Linked DNA regions of Homo sapiens: region 1 is linked to region 2. Evidence: fine-mapped expression QTL. A gene starts in region 2. The other region holds a variant in brackets. All regions are shown on one strand. Distances are from middle to middle.

Evidence for each region.
Region 1: its variant is fine-mapped to the expression of FGG in lung (GTEx, PIP 0.94).

The regions. Positions count from the first base shown.
Region 1 is chr4:154,586,190-154,594,793 of GRCh38, forward strand. It overlaps FGA (fibrinogen alpha chain), which reads right to left and starts at 4,553. Exons shown (of 5, transcript NM_021871.4): 1 at 4,445-4,553; 2 at 3,248-3,373; 3 at 2,604-2,787; 4 at 1,323-1,468; 5 at 1-729. The coding sequence starts at 4,498. The variant T/C (reference allele first, on the strand shown) is at 4,556.
Region 2 is chr4:154,609,341-154,617,944 of GRCh38, forward strand. FGG (fibrinogen gamma chain) reads right to left here and starts at 3,316. Exons shown (of 9, transcript NM_021870.3): 1 at 3,192-3,316; 2 at 3,051-3,095; 3 at 2,678-2,861; 4 at 2,465-2,558; 5 at 727-857; 6 at 290-423. The coding sequence starts at 3,269. RefSeq lists enhancers at 3,358-4,530, 7,516-7,665.

The DNA of each region.
Region 1 (8,604 bases), 23 kb before region 2:
AAATGTGCCCCAGTCTGGGTTGTTAGGCCTCGCGTTCCCAGAGCCTGGGCTATCTGGCCTAAAACTTCCAGATTCAGAGTGCCATTGTCCAGTACTACCAGATACAGAGCTCTCAGAGGTCCAGTGCCCAGCACTTCCGCGTTCAGAGCTGCCAGGATTCCAGGTTCCGGTACTACCAGGTCTAGGGCTCCCAGGGTTTTGGTTTCCAGTACTTCCAGTTCCAGAGCTCCCAGAGTTCCAGCTTCCAGTACTTCCAGGTCCAGAGCTCCCAGGTTTCCAGGTTGCAGTCCCTCCAGTCCCAGAGCTCCCAGGGTTTCGGTTTCCAGTACTTCCAGGTCCAGAGCTCCCAGAGTTCCAGCTTCCAGCACTGCTAGGGTTCCTGGGGCTTTCCGTCTCTGATCCGGTTCCATAAGAGGTGGAGCCTCCTCGAGTAATCTCATTTCCACCAGGTCTCTCTAACTCCATTCTCATCTGCGGCATGTCTGTTAATGCCTTCCACTCTGGGGGTACCTTCTGAAGCTGGCTCTTAAAATTTCCGGGAACCAAGTCTGGAACTGGTTTCATTTTTATCAGTGGTAAGTGTTGCCTATCTCTAGAGGGAAGTAAGTCTTTGGCAATGACCTGTTCAAGTTGCTTCTGCTGATCTTCATAGTCCTTCAGATCTACTTCACGAGCTAAAGCCCTACTGCATGACCCTCGACAAGATCGGATCTTAATATCAATGTCCACCTAGAGAGAGGGGAGAAAAATAAAGAGAAAATGTAGATACAAATACATAAACTACGTCTATTGAGTTCCTGGTAGTTAATTTTCCTTCTGGAAACTGGTTTCATTTTTTTTGACTCGGAGACCTACCACTTAATATTCTCTGTTTTCTGCCTATCGAGCACCCTCAGTGGAAGAGATGTTGGGTATTGCAGGGCTAGCCAGGATAAGCAATGGATGCTGTTTAATTCATCTTAGCCTCAGAATGGATCAAGAGTAAGGTGCTATTCCCTCTCAAAGGAAACGCTAATTAAATGATCCTTGGTGAAACTCAGGCTGAGGGCTCAGAGGTGTGGTGATGTAATGGGCTTTGGAATTAGACAGGGACTGAACATTTGCTTTTGAAATTTACTATCTATGTACCGTTGGAAAATTTACTTAATATCTCTGAATTTTTTTTCTTCAACTGTGGAGTGAGGAAAATAATACCTACTTTTAGGTAGATGATGGATATAACACTTTTCTCTGCATATAGTAGACACTCAGTGCATAACTATCGCCTTCCTTTTCCCTCTACTCAGAAACAAGGACATCTGGGACCACAGCCACATACTTACCTCCAGTCGTTTCATATCAACCAACTGAGCTCTAACATTTTTCTGCAGAAGCTGGATATGCTGTACTTTTTCTATGACTTTGCGCTTCAGGACTTCAATTCTGCTTCTCAGATCCTCTGACACTCGGTTGTAGGTATTATCACGGTCTGAAATCGAAAATATGGTTATTGAAGTAGCTGCTGAGTGATTTGTCTGTAATTGCCAGCAAAAAAGAAAGGAAGAAAGGAAGGAAGGAGAAAGAAAGAAAGAAAGAAAGAAAGAAAGAAAGAAAGAAAGAAAGAAAGAAAGAAAGAGAAAAAAGAAAGAAAGAAACTAGCTTGTAAATATGCCTAATTTTATTTTGGTTACAGTTTAATCTGTGAGTTCAAAACCTATGGGGCATTTGACTTTTGGATAATGTTATGCCCTGCAGCCTTCCATGAATGCCAGTTAAGATGTCCTAATAGCAATTAGTAATCCCAAAGAAATATAGAAGAAGAACTTTCTTTGGAATTTTAAAGGTGTAATTTGGAGTTAAAATAGTTGGTTTGATTGCATTTCAATTATTTTATAACATCCTTAATCAAGGGACTTGAACATATTGGATTTTCTTACTGATGAGCTTTTCTTTTTAATCTATAGATTTGAAATGGTTCCTAAGCTGTTTTGGGTCAACAGGATCACTCACTTGCCAGCTAGTGTTGCATCACTGATTTTAAATGTCAAGTGTTTGTGAAGGTGTAAAAAGGCAAAGCAAAACTTGAGAAACTGAGGACTCCCTAGACTCGCTGTCCATGCCCAGAGTGAATGCAATGTTTCCTAACCCTAATGAGTAGACTGTGAGAATGACGTAGCTTGACCCTATATTTTAAATTTAAAAATCTACCTAATCAGCTCAGTGGAGTCTGGGAGTTGAATTCCCAGCTCTGTGTCTTTGAACAAGTTCCTTGACCTCTCAGTTTTCACCTTTACAAAGCAGAAACAAAAATATCAACTCAAAGAGTCTGACCCATCCTACTTTCAGTATATACTGTTGAAAAGAACACATTTAAATTCTTGTTTTTAATCCAAAATTCTGACTTATTTTGTGACCTTAAACAATCTCAGTTAACATCTTTTACTTTGAAAAAATAACGAAAACAAAAGCTCCCTCTTAAAATTTTCAGGGATATTATGAAGGTATGTGTTTCTACACTAAGTACTTTGGGATGAAATTGTCATAGATATAAGCGGATATCATATTTATTTAGGATTTTTGTTGTTTCTGTTATAAAGTCAAAGCAGTAAATATGTAATACTTACTATTGGCTGAGGAAAAATCGCCTCTCAAAATTTCCATTATATTAGTGGTCAACGAATGAGAATCCTTATTGTTCTTCTGATATTCAAATAGTGAATTTTTGAGCTTATTTATTCTGTTTGTAAAATCTTGATTGACTTCATCAATCAACCCTTTCATCCTGCAGCCAGAAGGGCATTTGTAGTTCTGAAAGTGAAGGGAGAAAATTACAGTAAGGATCTATCTCTCAGATTCAGAATAATTTTGCATGTTTCCATGCAGCCCCCATTTCTTCCTACCCTATCTCTTCCAGATAAGTTGGCTTAAAAGTAGGTAAGAGGACTAGTTAGAGGTCGCAGAGAAACTCTGGAATGAGGGTCCACTTAGCCATAAATTAGGTGCCAGGAAATTGAGGCCACAATACTCAGGAGCCTGGTTTTGCCTGAGCATGCAACTGAAATCCTGTCTGTTCACCCACTAATGATCCAGAGTTGGGGAGGTAAATAAACAGTGCTCTTGGGAGTAGGTTCCTTTTCTTTATTTGCTATGTAGGTAACTATTCAATTATTTTCTATTTAAAAAAGTTTCTGGGACCAATCAGGTCAGCCTGTGAGCCCCTCTAGCATCAGAGGGAAGGAATCTCCTGCTTCCCCCGCTGACTGCTTACCCAGTCTTCATCAGAGCAGAAGGGCCAGTCTGAATCTTTGCAGGCAGATTGATGTCTTTCCACAACCCTTGGGCCACGCACGCCTCCTCCTTCAGCTAGAAAGTCACCTTCACCACTATCTGCAGTCTTTAAAGATTCATTCACATACACAAAAGAGAGCAACAGCAATGTTAGCCAGAAGAGGAGACAGTGGCATGCCTACAAGTCCCCAGGAAGAGATGGCACTCTCACAGAGATTAAGGAGAGCAGACACAGGGCTTCGGCAAGCTTCAGGTTTCTTATCTTCAAATGGAAATCCTAGGACCCATTTTATGGAGTTGTTATGAGAATTAAAGGAGACAAGGTGTACAAATTTCTTAACTGTGTGTGACACTTAAATAAGCATTTGATAAATATTAGGAGTTTTAAAGAATCCATCCTAAAAGGAAAATTATTTGAATCTATAAAATCAGTTAAATTTTACCTTTTCATTTTTACTAATGACTGCAGACAGAAAGTTGAAAACTACTGTAGAGCTCTTTCTCCTGTAATTGCTGCTTCAGTAGAAAAACCTAGACTATCTTAACTGAATGTTCCTCTCTCCTTCAAGTTTCTATGTAACCTTTAGAGATGGATTCATAATTTAAAAGAATACCATTACTGCGGAAAAGCGTATTGCCTTACTAACTAATCTCTTCTGATACTGCAAAGATATTTCCAAAGATAATTCGTTTGCTTTTTCTTCTGTCTTGACAAACACAACAATAACCTTTCAGCAAAACTGTACTAACACTAAAAGTTCTGCTTATTATGGACAAGTAGCAAGAAATTAATAACTAAAGAAAACAAATCTTACCATAAAATGTTTTATTCCATTAACTAGCATTATAATGCACCAAGGCTTTATAGGTACAAGGATGGCAAATAATTCTTGCCCTTTTTAAAACAAAACAAAACAAAATGTGGTAAGACTGAATGACAGATGCTAAAGTTTCCCTTGTGAGTTTGTACACTCTCATCCATCTAAGATCTTCCTCTTGGTGTCATATTACCCTGTATTCTTGAGGTGTCAAGCCCACCCAGGAAATTTCCTCCCAGGCCTGGGGTCATAAAGCTAAGAGTGTGTCAGGACATAGAGCAGGTAGACTCTGACCTCCAGGCTCTTTGTGGAATAAACACCAGAGAGAAAGCAAGAAGAAAAAATGAAAAGGGCCATACCCATGCTGTGCCCACCACACTTAGGACCAGGCAGACGATCCTCATGGAAAACATCTTTTCTAAGGGTGGGGCTGGCTCCTGAGGAGCACTCCAGCTGAAAGAAAGGATTGC[T/C]GCCACTCCTAGTTCCCATCCTATTTAAATCTGCAAGAGGTTTGGTTAATCATTGGCTTTGTCCTGTGTAGACAGTCAACCCTCCCTCTACGTCCTTTGTTCCTCCTATGCTGTTGGTATCCCAGAAATTCTTGCTCAATTCCCCTCAGCTTGTTTGCTTCCGATAAGCTGTTGCAAAGGTAGCATTTGATTCTCCAGTCAACAATTAGGAGATCTCACATTCCAGGAACAGGGTGGCTTTGAGAATGAAAAGAGGAGCATAGGAGGGTATATCCATATTTCTAAACGTGAAAGAATATAGAAGGTGCTTAGGTAAGCTAGCTGTAGCCCCCAGTAGTAGTGATTTAGCAAACAATATTTCACTTTATGCAGAAATTAGGGTTGGGTGATCTGGCTTATAAAAAAAATAACTTTGGGGATAAGCTGGCCCTGAAGGCTTTCTATAAGTTTATTTAGAACATATTACTTTTCTCTATTTAAAATATTAAGATGACAGCAGCCCCAGGAACAAAACATCTTGGGTTCATAATCCAAGCTGCACCACTTCCCTGCTCTATGTTCTTGGACAAGTTACTTTACCTCTTTATACTTCAGTTTCCTCATTTATAAAATAAGGATGCTGATAAGCTACCCCATGCTTTTATGAAGAATAAATGAGTTAATTCTTGTAAATCTCTCAGAACAGTGACTGTCACATAGGAAATACTCAGTGAATTATGGGAGATCATAAAGTGCCATGAAAAATACCATTTATTTCCTGTTTCTGTGCTAGCAATCTCATTTCTGAGTGTATTTCCAAAGGAAATGAAATCAGGATCTTGAAGAGACACCTGCATTCCCATGTTCATTGTAGCTATATTGACAATAGCCGAGATATGAAAACAACCTGTTTCCACTGATGGATGAGTAGATAAAGAAAATGTGTATATATATATATACACAATGGAGTATTACTCAGCCTTGAAAAAGAAGGAAATTCTGTCATTTGCAGTAACATTGATGAACCTAGAGGGCATTATCCTAAGTGAAATGAGCAGATATAGACAGACAAATACTGCTTAGCTGGTCGTGGTGACAGGCACCTGTAATCCCAGCTACTCAGGAGGCTGAGGCAGGGAGAATCACTTGAACGCGGGAGGTGGAGGAGGTTGCAGTGAGCCGAGATTGCATCATTGCACTCCAGCCTGGGCCACAGAGTGAGACTCCTTCTCAAAAAAAAAAAAAAAAACGGAAAAGAAAGACAAATACTGTATGATCTTTCTTACATGTGAAATCTAAAATAGTCAAACTCACGGAAGAAAAGTGTAGAATGGTGGTGGCCAGGGCCTGAGGCATAGGAGAAATGGGGGAGATGTTGGTTAGAGGGCACAAAGTTTGAGCTATGCAATATAAATAAGTTCTGGAGTCCAATGTGCAGCATGGTGACTATAGTTGATAATATTATGCTGTATATTTGAAATTTGCTAAAAAGGTAGATCTTAAGTCTTCTCACCACACAAAAAGATAACTATATGAGGTGTTTTAAGTGCTAATTAGATTAATAGTGGTAATCATTTCACAATGTTTATGTGTATCAAAACACCAATCAGAGAGAAGTTCCCCTTTAAAGGAAAATAAAAAAACAAACATCCAGCTGTACAACCTAAATTATGCAATTTTTATTTGTCAATTATACTTCAATAAAGGTAAAAAACATCTTCAGCTTACATTTACCAGATGTATTAGGTTGGCGGAAATAGCAAATAAAAATAAGAGTGTCCCAGTTAAATTTGAATTTCAGATAAACAACAAATCTATTTGAGTATAAGTATGTCTCATGTGATATTTGAGACACACTTAAAATTTTTTTGTTGTTCATCTGAAATTCAAACTTTACTGGACATCCTGTACTTTATCTGGCAATCCTACCTTGCCTCAAATTCTGCTTCCTACATGAAGCCAATCCTAATAGAGTAATAGCTAATGTGTATTGAATGTTTACTAAGTCTTGGGTTCTTTGCTAGACATTTTGCAGGGTACCTGATTCAATGTCCAATTAAAAGGAATCTCATGTTCTTTCATACTTCCTTAGACTGTGCACCACTAATGGCATTTATCATTATAGGAGTACCGTCTGTCTCCTCCACTAGATCATAAACTTGAGAATTGAAATGTTTTATTGGTCTTTATATTCTCCCCAAAAGGTGTGGGCCCTCATTGAGCAAGAAAGCATAAGTGGGTTCCAGAGATGCGAAGTTGCCTGGCTGCCTCCCCCAGCACTGCAGACGTGTGAAGCTTTCTATAAATGGATGGAAGCCCTGGTGCAAGGCAGTGCACTGTCTGCTCTATGGAAGACTCCTTGTCTGATCAAGCTCACCCCTGAAGCAGCTTGCTATGATTTTAGAGTTAACTGCAGAGCAAAGAGGAAGCCCCAGAGCCCCATCCAGGTTCCAGAGGGCAATGATTCCATGAAAAGCTGGGTTACACTCACTCACAATGACTGCACTGGCAAAATGTCAGGATTAGATAGGAAGGTGAGGCTTGATCTCTGCACACATTTTCCTATGCCCACAAGAAGTGCCCCTTTGGGAGGTGAACATGGTATATAGCAAAGAAGTTCCCGAGAGTAACCTGGTAGGCCTTAGGTGAGTCGGCTGAACATAATCTGATTGAAGGTAAATTAACAGAAAACAATTTGGTTGAATGCCACCACCCTAGTGCCATGTCAGGGTGTTTCCAAGGATGCCACCTGAGGGCTTTATCCTTGCCTCTCAGAATCAGCACATCTCACACCCTTTCTTACTCCTGGCCTCTGCTCACATGGCATCTACTCAGAGAGGCCTTCTCTGGCCACCTGATCTAAAGAGCTGCCACTCTCGCATGTCATTCCATTGACTCTGCTTGGTTTTTCCACGCAGTACCTTATAACTCCTGGACAATGTGCATTTGGGAAGGTATTTGTTTATTCTGTGTCTTGCCTACACAAAGCTTCCTGAGGCCAAGGCACAAGGACTGGCACAAATGTCAGGCATAGAGCAATTGCTGCTCAGTATCTGCTGGAGAAATGGAAGGCTGTCACCATATGGTGGTGACAATGCATGGTGGGCTTTCCAGCATGTGAGACCTGGATTCCAGCTAAGTGACATGGGCAAACTATTTAAATTCTCTGAGCTATAAATGGGATGATGATATTTGTCTTACAGGATTGCTGTGAAGATTATGTAAAATGGTGTATGTAAAATGTTGGCCATACACAGCAGGAGCTCTAGAAACAGTAGCTTTTATTGTTCCTAGAATATCCCAATGCTCCATGATAAAATGTTCCCTTGTTTTGACTGTAGTACCAGGAGTCCCTAATGAGGCACTTCTGTAGCTCACTGTTTGGCCCCACACTGCAGGCTGCTCACTAGGCTGGGCTCTCTGCCCCATGAACAGGCTGTATTGTAAGCTTTGGAGGAGTAGGTTTTGTTTAGCTGGAAAACCATGCAAATTAATAGGCATGATACGAGTATCATTTTTTAAAAAGCATGTGACAATAAGCGTATCTTTAAATGTGCAAAACTGGAAAAAAGATGGAAGAAATTTTCAGTTGCTTAAATTATAATCTGCCGTGCATTGGCTTTTTCTTTTTGAGATGGAGTCTCACTCTGCCACCCAGGCTGGAGTGCAACAGCGCCATCTCAGCTTACTGCAACCTCTGCCTCCCGGGTTCAAGCGATTTTCCTGCCTCAGCCTCCTGAGTAGCTGGGATTACAGGTGCCCACCACCATGACTGGCTAATTTTTTGTATTTTTAGTAGAGATAGGGTTTCCCCATGTTGACCAGGCTGGTCTTGAACTCCTGACCTGAGGTGCTCCACCCACTTCAGCCTCCCAAAGTGCTGGGATTACAGGCATGAGCTACTGCACCAGGTTTGTCTTTTTCCTATAGATAACTACATCCTATTTACCTTAGCTCTAATGAGAAGGATGTTTGATATATCTATCCTTTTGAAGTTAATGTAATATAAACATTTAAATATAAATGTTAATATAAACATTTGAATGCAGGAATTTACACATTTGTTATGC
Region 2 (8,604 bases):
AAAGTCAGTGCCAGTACAATATAGAGTCAAGTCACAAACTCTGAAACTATACTGCCTAGGTTCAAATGCTGACTCTGTTGCTTATTAGTTATGTGGTCTTGGGCAAGTTATTTAACCTTGTGTGCCTCAGTTTCCTTTTCTGTAAATAGGAGTAACAGAAGTACCTTCCTCTTAGGGCTATTGCAAGGATTAAATGAGCTACGGTTCACAAGGTGCTTAGAAAAGTATCTGCCATATGGCAGAAACAATGTAGGAATTTATTAAATACACATGGTGGGGAAAAAATTACCTTCTGAAACACAGTCCATCCATTTCCAGACCCATCGATTTCACAGTAGACTAAGAATTGCTGGTTAGCTTTCAGAGGTTTAATAAAGTAAAGCCCGCTCTGTTTAGCTCCCTTATTGGCAATGTCTTGACAATCTAGAGAAGGAGAATCGACTTTTACTGTGGTTTGAAATGCAGGTAAGACTGTGCCAGCCTTGAAAAATAGCTTTTAACATGTAGTAAACTATTCATTTTCCAAGAATAATTTTCTTACTTTTCACATCAGCATTCCTTTTAAACTGTTTTTTTTAGCTATTCAAGAAAGGTCTAGACAACTGAAATTCTTAGACTTAATGGGTAGCCACTTTCTAAACTATTCCTATACTTTCCAGTACATACTTTCTCCTTTACATTACTTACTTTGATGAACCTAATCCCAATATAACCTTCATCAGTTACCTTTCCCAGTGATATCATGGATTTGCACCGTGTCTTTGCAAGGTTCCTGGCACTGTGCTTCAAGCTGGGCTACCTTCTCTTTCAGGTTAACAATCTTTTGATTATTTGAATTATATATTTCCTGCAAATATCTACAAACAGAAACATAAGATAACAAAAATAAGAAGACAAAAATAAGTATTCCTTTCAGAAGAGTAATTTTATATTTTCTTTGGAAACTGCTAAGTATTTTCTTAAGAAGTGCTTTCTGATAAATTATTCCATTCTTGAGGAAAATGTAAAATTATATTACTAAATTAACATGAATTAAAATTATAAACTTTTTGAAAAAGAAAAACAAATCAAAAAATCAATTAAAACAGGAATACAATGTGGACCTGAATCTTTTTACTTAGAATGGGGCATATTGTCTCAACTCCCAACACAAATAACAAAGTCCTTGTCAATAAGCAAATGTCATTGACATTTTGCTTTTTACTTTATGCATAAGGGACAGCAGATAGCAACCTGCAAGAGTGGCGGGACTGGTTAATAGGAACACCCCCTGATGCTTTAGAAGCAGGAAAAGCTCAGTTCAGTAATTCACATGTGCTGAAGGAGTATACCTTTCACTTGTGGATCTACTGAGGCTATACATATAAGCTTCAATCTAAAATATAACTTACACAGGGACATGATCTGGAACGTTATTGTATGTAAAATAAAACAACAGATACTTCCCCTTTCTTCTTTAATGCTTCTGGTTACATAGCTTTGGGAATGGACTGGGGGAAGTAAAAACCCTCCTTTTGTAGTTACTTACAGGGTGGCTTGCAAATATCCAAAAATGATAGAAAACTGTCTACAATGCATAAACCGTTCTTTCTTTGAAGTAAAAAAGGGTAGACAAACTATTTGTCCACGTTTTCCCTCTACCTTGTCTTAGGCAATTTCTGTACAATAACCTCCTTCAACTTCAATGATGGACAATAATAATGCAAGTAATAATAATAACAATAATAACAAGGGCCCTCTGATAGCAAAAAGAGGAGAAATCTTTCCTGGGCCACTTCTCCCTAGCTACTATTTATCTCAATTTCTCAAGCTGCTTTGAGAAAAATTCAGAAAAAAAAATTGGGGAAAAATATTAAAACTGTATCTGAGACCTTATGTTCAGAAAGTTTATGAGTCCCTGAGAAGCTTTAACAGAGACATTCACTTCCAAATGAAGGGAAGAGACTATGCAGGTTCATTCTGCAATGATCAATATGAGCTTTGCAATATTTGCCACACTTAGTCTCTCAAGACATGTTTCTTCCTGCTCCACATTCAATATAATTTACTTTAGGAGCCAAAATCCTTACTATGCCTCTGCTTGCTAATTTTTTTAACCACCAATTTGTCAGCATTTTTATAAAGAGGATTTTATTTTCAACACCCAAATTCCTATGAGATTGATTTTATGTTGTAAGATAAATGGGGGATGGGGAAAAAATTTTTGATAAATATGGTCAAACTAGCATTTGAAGACATCTAGAACATCTTTCTTCAATGTGATTATTAATAAGCAATTATAACCCAGTATAATTTATATTGCACTAAAAACTTCTATCTCTACTATGCTCAACATAATCAGGCATAATGTCACTGGGATATTATAAATGGGGAAAACACATTAAAAATTACTTTCACTCAAGTATAGAATATTAAATAAAAACTAAATCAGTCTTGCAGAGCAAATTAAAACAAAAATCCTTACCGAATACTTGAGTCATGTGTTAAAATCGATGCTTCATATTTCATAATTTCTTCTAACATTTTCCTGGACTTCAAAGTAGCAGCGTCTATCATATCTGTAATATAGGATCAGAGACATAAAAATCCTTAAGCAAATAGAACAACTAAAACAACAGCAAAAGAACTTCACAGATTATTATTATTATTTTTTGGTCAGTAGTCTTTATTTTCTCACTTGGTTTTGATGATTCATCAGGATTATAAGTGAGTTGGATTGCTTTTATCAGCTGTTTGACTTCTGATGTTTTGTTTTCAACTTGATGTAAGATGTCTTCCAAAGACTGTAGATCCTTGTCTACTTTGGTTTGATAAGTAGACAGGAAATCTGCAATGCCACAGGTAGTTGGACAATAACTACCCTGAAAATATAACAGTGATTAAAAATGTAGACAGATGCTACTCTTAAAATCTATTAAGAAAAATAGGTAAAACCTAGACTATGTTTTTAAAAAGTTACAAGTGCCAGATGATATTTATGAGGGAATTATTTCTATTCCTCTGCCCCTCTCCAGTTCACACACAAAGGGAGAAACATAAAAACTACTTACGAATCTTTCATCTAAGATGCAGCAGTTGTCTCTGGTAGCAACATACTAAAAGAGAAAAAATACAGAAATTTCACTAGTTTATTATCTGTTTTATTTTCCAGCTTTCCATTTTAAACAACGTTTTGTGAAGAGCACACTTACTGCTACACATGTTGAAGAGAGAAATAAAAGAGCATAGAAGTAGAGAATTAAATTCCGGGGGTGCAAGGACCAACTCATGATGTCTGAGTGCCCGGAGCTCCGAGCCTTGTAGTGTCAGCACTGTCACCTCTCAGGCTCCAATTGTCCCTTTATGTAAGCTCCTGGGATAGCCAGGACTGCAAATGGCTGGAGCTGATCACGGGGCCTCCTTACCAGAAGGGTGGGCAGGTCTTTCCCGTTCCTTTTTCCTCATCCTGGCCCCCAACCTATACTGTCAGGTTCCCAGATTTTGCACACAGGTTGAAGCTCCTCCTTTTTGGCCCAGCTCAAGGTTTTTTCTCTGATCCAAAATTATCTGCAAAGGCTAGTGAAGCATTATCCATTGCTGTGAGGAGGAGGGCAGTCCTGGAGGCTGTGTGATGCAACTTCTTCCAGTACATGGCTGAGAGCAAACAGATATGACCTCGAACTAAGCAAACCTAGTCTATCCTTAAGATGGGTCCTGCTGCCATCACCTGAATTACCAAAAGAACTTTCTTAGCTTAGGGATCAGTTAACACTATTATTTTAGCCTAGGGATCAGTTAACATTATTATTTTTAATCTGTGGCTGTGGCAGGAGGAGACTGACTTCCCCCATGTCCCAGTTCACTATTCCCAGGAATGAATGACCCTGGAAATACATTCCTGTCCCTCTGTGTCAACCATGTTCATAGGCTCTCACTTCTCAGGGAGCTTTTGAGCTCAATCTTCCCTTTGTCTGAAGGTGGGCATGGCACCCCATCTGCCACAGAGAAAAGAGCCAGGAGCCCACTTCATTGTTCCTGTGGTTCCATCAAGCTATCTCAGAGAAGAGAAAAATCCACCTCCCTTGTATCTAAGGAGAGTAGAGGCATAGCTGAAGGAAGGGGCAAAATGAGGTGCTGGGGAGGGGCCATCATTTCTGTTTGGCCCTTACAGCATCCTTGTGTTTGGGAAAACATGTCTGTCATCACTGCCTATTGAGATTTATCACTGGGCGTTACACTATTATTAATGTCTCTATTTTTGGTTATCCCTCATTTCTTCCTCTGGAACCAAGCTTATTATAAGTTTTGATGAAATATGTTAGTGGGAGAAATGCCTCCAGTTTGAAAGAAATACTAATACTTTAATTCTGTCTTTACAAAGGTATATTTATTGACTCAAAAACAAAGATAAATATTCATATTCAGTAAATAATCAATAATTATAACAAAGTGAACACATCAAAACCAGATTTGTTGCTTTTCTTCTCCTCCTTAATATATCCCTCTCTGACTTAGCAGTTATTGTCAATCATATCACCATACCACCAGCCAATTAAGTCTCACAATCTTTCTCATCCATCTTTTCCACTCAGCTAATCAGTTGTCAATCAAGTCAGTTGAATTAAACATTTAAGTATTAGTATTCTTTCAAACAGCTCTACCTCAGATAGCATTTGTAGCAACCTTATATTATATGTATACATGCTGTATCCACTGCATTAGATTGTAAACTGATTTCTGTGGCTACGGCATCTAACATATATAGCTGTACTTAACATAGTTGTAGTTAACACTCAATAACTATGTAATGACTTGAATCAGTTGCCTCTGTGAAGAAGAATGGGATGCAGAGGTGGAGGACAGGATTGGAAAAAAAGGCTTTATTTTTCTCTGTAAACTTTCTATATTTAGAATGTTGAATGTATATAAATATTATCTACTAAAATATATATAATGAAAATATGTAATTATTGATCATTCACAAAGATTTACATAGTACACTGATAATTACATCTTGCTAACTTTTTAATATGATTTGAACATGAAAGGTGACTCAGGCATTGCCTTTGCCTTCAAGAAGTGTGTAGCTCAATTGGAGAATGTATAAATAAATAGTTGTTAAGGCTCTGGAGTCCATCTCCCTAGGTTTGAGTCCCATCTTTACAATTTACTGGCTGTGTGATTCAGTACAAGTTACTCAATCTCCTTGAGTTCCATTATCCATGTCAGTAAAAGAGAGATAATACTTATGATATGGTATTTACTTAATAGGGCTATTACTAAGATTTAGTGGGATAATGTGTTGAGCACATTACCCAATTCATGGTAAGTGTTAAGTAAATGTTTGTAAGGTTTATGAATTACCAAATATATTTGGTATAAAATCTATGTAAATAGGAAACTCTTTTAATAGAGCTATTATTGGTAGATTTGGTTCACAGGGAACAAGCTTTGTTGTTCTAGCTACAGAAATTCTCTTTAATAAAAAATCTGTTGCAACTAACTGCAGTCTCCTTCTGTAAGATTCCCCAGAGAAGAAAGCACCTGGTCGTTTAGTTTAGGAAATTCTATCCAAATTGATTTTACCAATCAAAGATCAAATGATAATATAAATGGATTGCATGCCTTGTGAGAAGGTATACTTCCTATCTGTAAGAATGTTCAAGCAAAGTGTGTTTAGACAGAGCATGTCTTTGTGGTTCTTTTTGCTGAAGACCATAAAATATTAGTTTGTTGAATTTAGGGTAACAATTCATGCAGCCACAGGTTGGGTTCTGAGCTCCTTAATGTCATAAAGTTTCATTGGTTGTGTTAAGATATATAATATTCACAAAGTTGATAAACATTTAAATTGAGGACATTAGAAATTCTATCTTATCCCATTTTAGAAGTGGAATACTTGTATTACAGGCTTTTAACTGACTTATATTGGAATCCAGATGTGTTATCACAATTTTAGAGAAAATAATTTCCTTTTACTACAATCTCAAGTCCTAAATCCAAATCATATAAGACAAGATGCTTGCTCTCTGAGAAAAAAAAATGGTCAACAGTGATTTAGCGGTCTACATTGGCCCTGCATTCAATCTAGTATCACTTAGGTTTATTAAATTTTAACTAGTTTTTTCATGTTTGGGCCAATTTTTTCTTTGAAAAATGATAAATGATTGATGAATTCCAGGAATGAAGAATGTTTCTTAAATCACAGTTCTTCTACTTCCAGGTATGTTTTTTGAGATAATAGCATAGGTAGTATTTAAGCCAAAATAATCATTTACTGTAACTCTGAGGTCAGTGGGCTTGTTTATTGAAATAATAATGTCCCAAATTCCCTATCGTCCAACCGTTTGTGTTCTGATTTGAAAACACAAATCTACAGCTAACAGTCTTCGTGTATATTGGTAATTTACTCTGTGAGCCAAGTCTGTTACATTCATCTTTGCTCCAAAATTATTTGCTGAATTTAAATTTGATTATGTAGAAGACTTCTTGACCTAGTGACAAATGATATAGCCCTAAGGAATAATAGAAAGAACTACCAATTTTGAGCATCTTCTTTATGCTAGATATTATGTGGTAGTATAGTTTTTGTTGTCATGTATATTCTCTCATTTAATCCTCACCACAAGCCTAGGAAGTAGATATAATTACCTGTATCTTATAATGAAAAAAGAAAGGCCTAGAGATGTTGTGTAACATATGCAGGGTCAGTGTGCCAGAACAGGAACTCAAACCCATGGGGCCCAATGCCTGTGCTCTTAACCATGAATCTTAATACAACCATGAAGCCCTTCTTAATTTAAAATAATACACAGATACAAGGTGTTATGAGACTCAAAGTTATTCACTGATAGAATGGATTTTAAAGATGTGTGTGTGCATCTACATAACTGTGTGCATGATTATTTGAACACACATTTACATCTATCTACCAACTTATCTATCTTCTTCTCTGGGTTAGAGACAAGATTTTGTGAATGATCTTTTACAGTCTTTGAGTATTTCTCAAACCTAGATTTGTGTTGTTTTATGATTAGCTTGTGTTTATGGTCCTTTTTTTTTTTTCTCTCTCTTTAGAGATGCAGCCTAGCTTTGTTGCTCAGTCTGGCCTCAAACTGAACTGCTGGGCCCAAGTGATCCTCTTGCCTCAGCCTCCTGAGTAGCTCGGACTATGGGCACGTGCCAATGCACCTGGCTTCAGTCCAATTTTAGATGGAAGCAGTTTTTCAATGCTAACTGCATGGTTCAAGTTTAATAGGACTTGATAAATTGAATTCCATCAGTAAGTTAAAGGGAGAGACAGCCACTGCGTGGTCAAGGAAGCTCAAATCAATGGCGACAATGATATATCTGTTTTTCTAACAAGTAAACCATTTCTAGATCTAAGCTAAATTTATAGCCTGAACCCTCAGAACTGGATTTCCTAAAAACTGGCAGAAAGAAAATGACCTATTGGCATACTGAAAGCCAGTCCAACCTAATAGTAAAAATATCCCATTAAGGGCAACAGAGTTGTCTGTTAGAATATTTGCTTTGTGTATAAAAATAGCCCAGGGAAAGTGAAAACGCAAAAGTTTCTTGGTAGTCTGTGAACAATGTGCTTTTAGTTTCACTATGTAAATCAAAGACAAAAACAACATTGGGCACAAGTAAAATGGACTCCCTCACTGGCAGCAGAACAGCACCCACAGGTTGAGTTTTGCACTTCTTAACTTCATAAAGTTTCATTACATGTGTCATTTGGGGGATCTGTCCTAGCGGCAGGGATGTTGAAAAATCTCTGCTGTGATTGGAATTTAGGAAATAAAGTACTGGGTGCCTAGAGAAAGAAGGATTATCCCATTGGCAATTACAGAGGCCAAAGAGGCTGGAAATTAGCCATTTTTAATACTAGTTTGAGACTAAGGAATGATCTGAGGTGCCCTGGATTGAGACAAATTGAACAGAGAAGTTGGATTTAAGTGTTTTGCTGTGCCACATTGGTATCTGCTACTGGTTTGTTTGTGTTTTTCCATCTTTGTGTAATCTACGATTTTAAATCTCTCACCCCATGAAAGAATTTTCATGACTAAATATGATTAGCAGGAGATTTACAAGAGCAAATGAGTTTGGGGGGAAAAATAAACCACCACCAACCAAGGGGCCAAGTTATATTCACAAGAATGTGCTCCGGAAAGAAGAAACTTTTTAAGCCTTTGAGTAGAAATACTGGCCTATGTTGAAAGTGGACAGGCCCCTGTTTGAGAAAAACTGTAGTTATTTTGTCATATAAACTATCTTTGGAGGAATATATATATATTTCTAAAGAAGGAGAGAAAATAAGAAGAACAGAGAATGCTATCAGATCATCAAAGCAATTCAGTCATCTTATCTAGCTTAACGCACACATTTGCTTTAACCTGCAATTTTGAATGAGGACAAACAAAACATTTATAAGATTTAGATCTTTGTTTTAAATTCTAACTACTTGGGTTAGTTTATTGTCTTAGTGTAATTGCACTATAGTCCTTTCAAAGTTAAATCCATATAGGATTTGCTGTGTACAAAGGCTAACTTTCTATTGACATTTTGAAGGACTTTGCTTCATCCATGAAAGGTGACATATCTCTGTCTTCTTCAAGTGTA